2 separate regions of the Homo sapiens genome follow, and region 1 is linked to region 2. The links come from fine-mapping of genetic effects on gene expression. A gene starts in region 2. The other region holds a variant in brackets. All regions are shown on one strand. Distances are between the middles of the regions. Region 1 overlaps LOC105374218 (a long non-coding RNA gene). Region 2 holds the start of PLD1 (phospholipase D1).

The links. PIP is the estimated chance that this variant, and not a neighbour inherited with it, causes the effect. A credible set is the group of variants that fine-mapping cannot tell apart.
Region 1: its variant is the best candidate, but not a certain one, in a credible set for the expression of PLD1 in whole blood (TOPMed, PIP 0.53).

The regions. Positions count from the first base shown.
Region 1 is chr3:171,918,553-171,922,940 of GRCh38, forward strand. All of the region lies in intron 2 of LOC105374218 (a long non-coding RNA gene), which reads left to right. Among named protein-coding and RNA genes, the nearest start is that of TMEM212-AS1, 20 kb to the left of the region's middle. The variant C/T (reference allele first, on the strand shown) is at 2,299.
Region 2 is chr3:171,808,224-171,812,611 of GRCh38, forward strand. PLD1 (phospholipase D1) reads right to left here and starts at 2,260. Exons shown (of 27, transcript NM_002662.5): 1 at 2,176-2,260.

The sequences.
Region 1 (4,388 bases), 110 kb after region 2:
TTTTTAAAAATCCCTTCGCCTGCTTTTGTGGGGGAGATAACTAGAACAAATTTTCATTGCTTAATTATAAATAAACAGAAAACTCTCACATAGCTAGGGCTAGGTTTAGCTGTGACAGAAAACCCAAAATAATACTAACTTAACCAAGATGAAATTTAGTTCACTGTCATCTAAAAGAAGTTCAAAAGCAGGCAGTTGAGAGCTGCTACAGTGCTCAATAGTGTCAAGGACCTGGGATGCTTCTATTTTACTATTCTGCCATCCTTGGCACTTGGTTTCTACCTCACTGTGGAAGAAGGCTGCTTGAGCTATAGTCATTACATCTGAATTCCAGCTACAAGAAAATATGGCAAAAAGGCACTCCTCTTTCTATTTAAAGACACTCCTCAGAAGTTGTACATAGCATATCTATTTATATCCCTTTGGCTGAAACTTAGTTTTTGTTTGGTTTGGTTTTTGTTTTGAGGCAGAGTCTCGCTCTGTTGCCCAGGCTGGAGTGCAGTGGCATGATCTTGGCTCACTGCAACCTCTGCCTCCCGGGTTCAAGCTACTCTCCTGTCTCAGCCTCTTGAGTAGCTGGGATTACAGGCATGTACCACCATGCCCAGCTAGTTTTTGTATTTTTAGTAGAGACTGGGTTTCACCATGTTGGTCAGGCTGGTCTCGAATTCCTAACCTCAAGTGATCTGCCCACCTCAGCCTCCCAAAGTGTTGGGATTACAGGCGTGAGCCCCTGGAACTTAGTTTTATGAACACATCTAGCTACCAGGGAGGCTGGAACACACAGGGACAACTAGCAGATTCTGCCATAACCCCACAGGAGAATTTGTAGTGTAAAGGAAAGAAAACATAGCATGCAAAAGGTGGAGGAAGATCAGACTATAAAAACCTATCTACTTTAGAAACATAAATTTTTAAATGCATCTATATTGTGCTCTTAATTTTCAAAATGCATGTACACTCTGAAAAAAGTGATAAAAGATAAATTGATCAGTAACAGGCAGAGTTGAGAAAAGAATTAGCTAAGCTAGAAAGGGAAATCAGGTGACTAAAAGGAGAACCAGGTGACTAAAGAAAGAACATTTTCAAAATAACTATGCAATTGTGAGACTGCGTGCTGAACTGGAAGCAGTGGAGAACAGAATTAACAAGGCAGAAAACAGAATCATTAATATGGTTGACAAGCTTAATTAATTTTCCTGTAGTAAATAAGAAAAGGAAAACAAGGCTGGGCACAGTGGCTCATGCCTGTAGTCCCAGCACTTTGGGAGGCTGAGGCGCACAGATCACGAGGTCAGGAGTTCAAGACCAGCCTGGCCAACATGGTGAAACCCTGTCTCTACTGAAAATACAAAAATTAGCTGGGTGTGGTGGTGCGCATCTGTAATCCTAGCTACTCGGGAGGCTGAGGCAGGACAATCATTTGAACCCAGGAGGCAGAGGTTGCAGTGAGTCCAGATCGCACCACTGCACTCCAGCCTGGGCAACAAAGCAAGATTAGACTCCCTCTAAAAAAAAGAAAAAAGAAAAAGAAAAATGAAAGGGAAAACAAAACCCAAAGAAAGAAAATTAGTATATCAAAGAGATATCTTCACTCCCGATGTTTACTGCAGCACTATTCACAATCGCCAACATTTGAAAGCAACCTAAGTGTCCATCAACAGATGAAAGGATAAAGAAAATGTGGTACATATACATAATGGAGTACTATTCAGCTATAGAAAAGAATGAGATCAACTGAAAGAAGGAAAATGGTGAATAGGAGGCATGACTGGATTTCAGCTCCCATTCAGACGGACAGAGCAGCATGTGGGGACTTGCATTGTGAACTTTTGCTCCAGAACTATTGCATGAATATACCAGGAGAGCCGAGAGAATTGACAGACCTTCTGAAGGAAGCGGATTGCTCCTGTGTACCCAAATACTGTGCTGGTATCCATGGCAGAGAGACCTGAAGACAGTTCACATCACAGCACTCTGTGCAGACAACATCCAGTACCAGCTCAGAGCCTGGTAGCCCTGCTGGGTGACTAGATCCAGAAAAGAAGTAACAACCATTACAGCTCAGCTCTCAGGAAGCCACATCCCTAGGAAAAAGGGAAGACATTAAGGGAACACAATGTGGGACAATAGAATCTGAATAGCAGCCTTGAGCCCCAGATCTCCCCTCTGACATAGCCTACCCAAATTAGAAGGAATCAGAAAAATAATTCTGGTAATATGACAAAACAAGGTTCTTTAACAACCCCCCAAAAATCACACTAGCTCACCAGCAAGGGGTTCAAACCCAGAAAAAAT[C/T]CCTGATTTACCTAAAAAAAGAATTCTGAAGGTTGATTATAAAGCTAATCAAGGAGGCACCAGAGAAAGGTGAAGTCCAATTTAAGGAAATAAAAAAATGATACAAGAAATTAGGGGAGAAATCTTCAGTGAAATAGATAGCATAAATACAAAACAATCACAACTTTAGGAAATAGAGAACACCCTTAGAGAAATGCAAAATGTTCTGGAAAGTCTCAGCAATAGAATCAGACAAGCAGAAGAAAGAACTTCAGAACTCAAAGACAAGGTGTTTGAATTAACTCAATCCAACAAAGACAAAGAAAAAAGACTGAAATAAAATGAACAAAGTCTCCAGGAAGTTTGGGATTATGTTAAATGACCAAACCCAAAAATAACTGGCATTCCTGAGGAAGAAGAGAAATCTAAAAGTTTGGAAAACATATTTAGGGGAATATCAAGGAAAACTTCCCTGGCTTTGCTAGAGACCTAGACATCCAAATACAAAAAGCTCAAAGACCAAGATCGTGCCATTGCACTCCAGCCTGGGCAACAAGAGTGAAACACTGTCTTGGAAAAAAAAAAAAAAAAAAAAAAAAGCTCAAAGAACACCTGGGAAATTCATCACAAAAAGATCACCACCTAGGCATATTGTCATCAGGTTATCTAAAGTCAAGACAAAGAAAAGAATCTTAAGAGCTGTGAGGCAAAAGCACCAGGTAACCTATAAAGGAAAACCTATCAGATTAACAACAGATTTCTCAGTAGAAACCCTACAAGCTAGAAGGTATTGGGGCCCTATCTTCAGCCTCCTTAAACAAAATAATTATCAGCCAAGAATTTTGCATCCAGCAAAACTAAGCTTCATAAATGAAGGATAAATACAGTCTTTTGCAGACAAACAAATGCTGAGAGAAGTTGCCACTACCAAGCCAGCACTATAAGAACTGCTAAAAGAAGCTCTAAATCTGGAAACAAATCCTGGAAACACATCGAAATAGACTCTCTTTAAAGCACAAACCTCCCAGGACCTATAAAACAAACAAACAAACAAAACCCAAGGTATATAGACAACAAATAGCACAATGAATGGAATAGTAACTCACATCTCAATACTAACATTGAATGTAAGTGGCCTAAATGCTCCACTTAAAAGATACAGAATTGCAGAATGGATAAGAATTCACCAACCAAGTATCTGCTGCCTTCAAGGGACTCACCTATCACACATAAACTTAAGGTAAAGGGGTGGAAAAAGACATTCCATGCAAATGGACACCAAAAGCAAGCAGGAGCTATTCTTATATCAGACAAAACAAACTTTAAAGCAACAGCAGTTAAAAAAGACAAAGAGGGACATTATATAATGATAAAAGGCCTTGTCCAATAGGAAAGTATCACAATCCTAAACACATATGCACCTAACACTGGAGCTCCAAAATATATAAAACAATTACTACTAGACCTAGGAAATGAGATAGACAGCAACACAATAACAGTGGAAGACTTCAATATTCCACTGACAGCACTAGACAGGTTATCAAGAAGAAAGTCAACAAAGAAACAATGGATTTAAACTATACCCTGGAAAAAATGGACTTAACAGATATTTACAGAACATTCTACCCAAGAACCACAGAATATACATTCTGTTCATCAGTGCATGGAATTTTCTCCAGGATAGACCATATGATAGGCCATGAAACAAGTCTTAATAAATTTAAGAAAATTTAAATTATATCAAGTACTCTCTTAGACCACTGAGAGAGTGGAATAAAACTGGAAATCAACTCCAAAAGTAACCTTCAAAACAATACAAATACATGGAAATTAAATAACCTGCTCCTGAATGATTACTGGGTCAACAATGAAATCAAAATGAAAATTAAAAAACTATTCAAACTTAAATGATAATAGTGACACAACCTATCAAAACCTCTGGGATACAGCAAAGACAGTGCTAAGAGGAAAGTTCATAGCCTTAAATGCCTACATCATCAAAAAGTCTGAAAGAGCACAAACAGACAATCTAAGGTCACACCTCAAGGAACTAGAGAAACAAAAACAAACCAAGCCCAAACCCAGCAGAAGAAAGGAAATAACCAAGATCA
Region 2 (4,388 bases):
AAAATTTCAAATTATTAAAAAAAAAAAATAGGGTCGGGTGCAGTGGCTCACGCCTGTAATCCCAGCACTTTGGGAGGCCGAGGCGGGCGGATCACGAGGTCAGGAAATCGAGACCATCCTGGCTAACACGGTGAAACCCCGTCTCTACTAAAAATACAAAAAATCAACCGGGCGTGGCAGCAGGCGCCTGTTTTCCCAGCTACTCAGGAGGCTGAGGCAGGAGAATGGCGTGAACCCGGGAGGTGGAGCTTGCAGTGAGCCGAGATCGCGCCACTGCACTCCAGCCTGGGCGACAGAGCGAGACTCCGTCTCAAAAAATAATAATAATAATAATAATGACAGTCCTACTTTTCCTTTGTAACAAAAATAAAAGTTACCTATAAGAGTTAAAGGTAAATAAAATTTGTAATTTTAATTAAGAAACACTAAGTAAACATACAACTTCCAAGAAGCCGGGTTCCCCACTACCTGGTTATAAGTAAGTCTACAAACCTAAATGAGCATTGTACAGCGCTTACTATAGTTCATAATTATTCTGTCATCAGGGACAAACATTGTAAAGACACTTTTTCCTCAAAGCCTTAGCATTCAATTTTTTTTTTTTTTTTTTTTTTTTTTTGAGACAGATTCTTGCCCTGTCGCCCAGGCTGGCGTGCAATGGCTCCATCTCGGCTCACTGCAACCTCCGCCTCCCGGGTTCAAGCGATTCTCCTGCCTCAGCCTCCCGAGTGGCTGGGATTACAGGCGTGTGCCACCACGCCTGGCTAATTTTTGTATTTTTAGTAGAGGCGGGGTTTCACCATGTTGGCCAGGCTGGTCTCAAACTCCTGACCTCAGGTGATCTGCCCGCCTCAGCCTCCCAAAGTGCTGGGATTACAGGCGTGAGTCACCGCGCCCAGGCAGCACTCCAACTTTTTATATGGATTGTTAACTGTACTGGTTCTTGAGAAGCCAGACTGAGCGCTTATACAATTAGTCCAAAGATCCCCAAACAACATTTAAAGGCTGTCTACAAATTCAAGCTAAAAGACTGTGTACAAATTCATTTGTGTGTCACAAAACATTTAATACTGAAAGAGATTCTTATTCAAATAGGCAGTGTGTAAATGTGGGGTCTGTTAACAGTTCAAATTGCAGATTCCTTTCCTTCTTTAAGTTTTCATTGCACCACCACGAACTAAACCATTTAACATACCTCAGAGGTCTCTGGGTACCTAGTCTCTCAGAGGCCTTTGGAGGCCCACGAAGGCTTATCTTAACTAAAATTGGCAGGGCTGGCTGATAAAGTTAACGGAACTCCCCATTTTGGAGGCAGACTTAGTAATGGTCAAACGAAGAAACTGTTGTGGTCTGTTCTTAAAAAGCTACTAGTATTTAGTGCTTCACAGAGGAAGTAAAGAAAGCAATAATCCGAGATGAGGAGGAGCAAATACAGGCGTGGCGGTAGTTCAGGACTGAGTCTACAAGGGCGGTTCTCAAGGGCGTCACAAAATCCTATGGAAGGCTTGGAGGACGGCACTCCTGGATCTGAGCCCTACGTCCCAAACACCTTCAATCGTATTGTGAGGAAGAAGACCTTTTACACACTCCCTGCTGCTGGCCCCCGGCCCCCTCGCCCCACCTCCGAGTGGTCACATCACACGGCGGGAGCCGCGGTCAGCAGCTGTGATCACACCCCCAGGACCGTGCTCTGCGGGCTGGGCTCGAAGCCTTGGGACGCGGCACTTCCTGGTTGGTACGGGATGCCGGTCCCATCGCCCCCACCAGCCCAGTCATGCCACCGCGCACCCGAACCAAGGGCGCCCGGATGACCTGGGGACACCACACACACTGCACCCGAAGCCCTGTGGCGGCGAGGCGGTGCATCCTGCAGAGGACGCCTGGGCTTCAGCCTGAGCCTGCGCGGCTCTGCGCTCCAGGCAGCCGCCCGCGCGGCAAAAGTGCGTGCCAGAGTTGTCAGCTTTCACCCTGCAGGAATTCCACCCGAAGGCGTGCGAGGGAGGCCCTTGGGGATCGCTAGGGAGTCCGCCGCCGACTCACTCGCTGAAATCCCGTCCAAGTTGGGCGGGGAGCGGCCAGCTGCCCAGGTTGGGCGGAGGAGGGACGGAGGGCGAGGGCAGTGGAAACCCGGCTCCCACGGGCGCCCGGTGATCCGGGTCTCGGCGCGGCTCCTACCTGCAGGGCGAAGGGGCCGCTAGCACCTGCGCGTTGGCGGCGGACTCTCAGGGCTCGGGTGCCTCTGGCACAGCTGGAGCTCAGCGGGAGGGAGGGAGAGAGGGCGGGCCGGAGGGGGCTCTGCGCTGCGCGGCCGGCAGGAACTCTCCGCCCGGATTCGCCCCGGATTCGCAGGGGTGGAGCGAGGCGGTGCCAGGTCCCGGGGCGTCGCGGTGCCGGCTGGAGGCCCCAGCGGGGCAGGTCTCGCGACTGGGCCTCTGATCGCCCGCGTTCCTTGTTCTCTTTTCCCAAAGTTTCATAACTCGACCGCATCACCCTAGGGAATGCTCGCTATTAGGACCATTATCAGGTCCTCTCGAGCCGCCAAGGACCAGCCACCTTTCCCGGAGCTTTGCCTATGATATCTATTCTTCGACTACTGCGGATAGTAGCCACAACTGGTCCAACTTATAAGTAAGGAATCAGCAAATCAAACGGCTAAATAACTTGCCTGAGGTGACATAATTAAGAGACTGGAGCTTTGCTGGAGTCTTTATAAGCCTTCTTGCACCTCCTTAGGGAAGTGTTATCGCCAATTTACAGGTAAGGAAATGAAGGCTCAGAACCAGCCCGAGGTCACACAGCTTAGATGGAGGGGGACGGGAATTTGTGTCCCGATGTCTCTAAAACTGGTTATAATTCAGAAATCTTAGCATAAAATAATAAATTGGGAGCAAAACAGGGAAAAGACCCATTCCACCTATGGAACCGTTCAAACACGGCAATTTTGCTGTTTTCAGTCCACTTAGAATAAAGTCTTAAGAAAAAGAGAACCAGTTGTCATGTGGCTTGAATAGCAGCCCTTTGGGAATGTAATTTTGAATATAGGCCAGTTCCAACCTCATTACACGATATTGCATCCCGCCAAAGCCAGGGGAAGCAATGGCCTCCCCATGCACCAAACTGCTAATAACGTCAGCCACTTTAAAGCATTTAGTGGATATTACACAACTGCGACTGACCAAGTTACATAATGTCTTACTGCACACATGGCATTGCATGAAATGAAAAATATAATATACCAGTCCAAATTAGGGGAGGGGGGCCAAATTATAGTCTGGAACTCAGTTTTCCTGTAACCTACAGTTGCTCAGCCCTCCTTAGACCACATTTTTGTCTCTTGAGCACATCTTTTCCTAATGATAGAAGAGTCACACAGCCCTCACTCTTTCCTTGTTGACATAAATGATTGATGTCTTTTGAATCCTATGATACTGACAGATTTTTACAATTAAACACATGACTCTCTGAGCAGAGTATTGCCTAAGAGGAGTTTAGTAAGTTTCAGACAAGCATGTTACTGGAAGGCAGAATACCCTCTCTCCTCCCCTCTTTCTCAAGCTTTATTAGTCACAGATGGTCTGATAAGTCTTGTGCACACACGTAACTGCATTCTTACAAGCTTGTCTTTAGAAATTATAATGCTTTTGGTTGAGAAGCAGCAGTCTATAAAATTGCATCCCAAATTCTTAAGTGTCACTATGAAAACATTTGGCACTTGCCTCCAACAATAGGTCTTTCTACTAAATCTAATTAGAAATAAAATTATCAAGGCCAAGCGCAGTGGCTCACACCTGTAATCCCAACACTTTGGGAGGCCGAAGCGCGTTGATTACCTGAGGTCAGGAGCTCAAGACCAGTCTGGGCCACATGGCGAAACCCCGGCTCTACTAAAAATACAAAAATTAGCCGGAGGTGGAGGCAGGTTCCTGTAATCGAAGCTATTCGGGAGGCTGAGGCAGGAGGATTATTTGAACCTGGGAGGAGGAGGTTGCTGTGAGTTGAGATTGCACCACTGCATTCCAGCCTGGTGACACAGCAAGACTCTGTCTCAAAAAAAAAAAAGAAAGAAAGAAAGAAAGAAAATTATCTAAGTGCCCTTACAATAACTGAATTTCTGCCTCCCTGGGATAGAGGAATAAAATAGGAAATGCCATATGTTGTTTAGAGATGAACTGAAGCTTATGGACTCCCAAACATGAATTTTAGAAGTAGTATGATTTTGTATGTAATTATTTTATTTTCCTGAGAGATTTTGTGATTTTTCTTTCCAACTCTTTCATATCTTCAAAGATGTCAAGAAACAGTGACTAAGTAATCATGCTATACATTCATCTCAATATGCACTTGACATTTTTGTCAAAGTGGTATTTGAAATCCTTTTAATTGTTCTA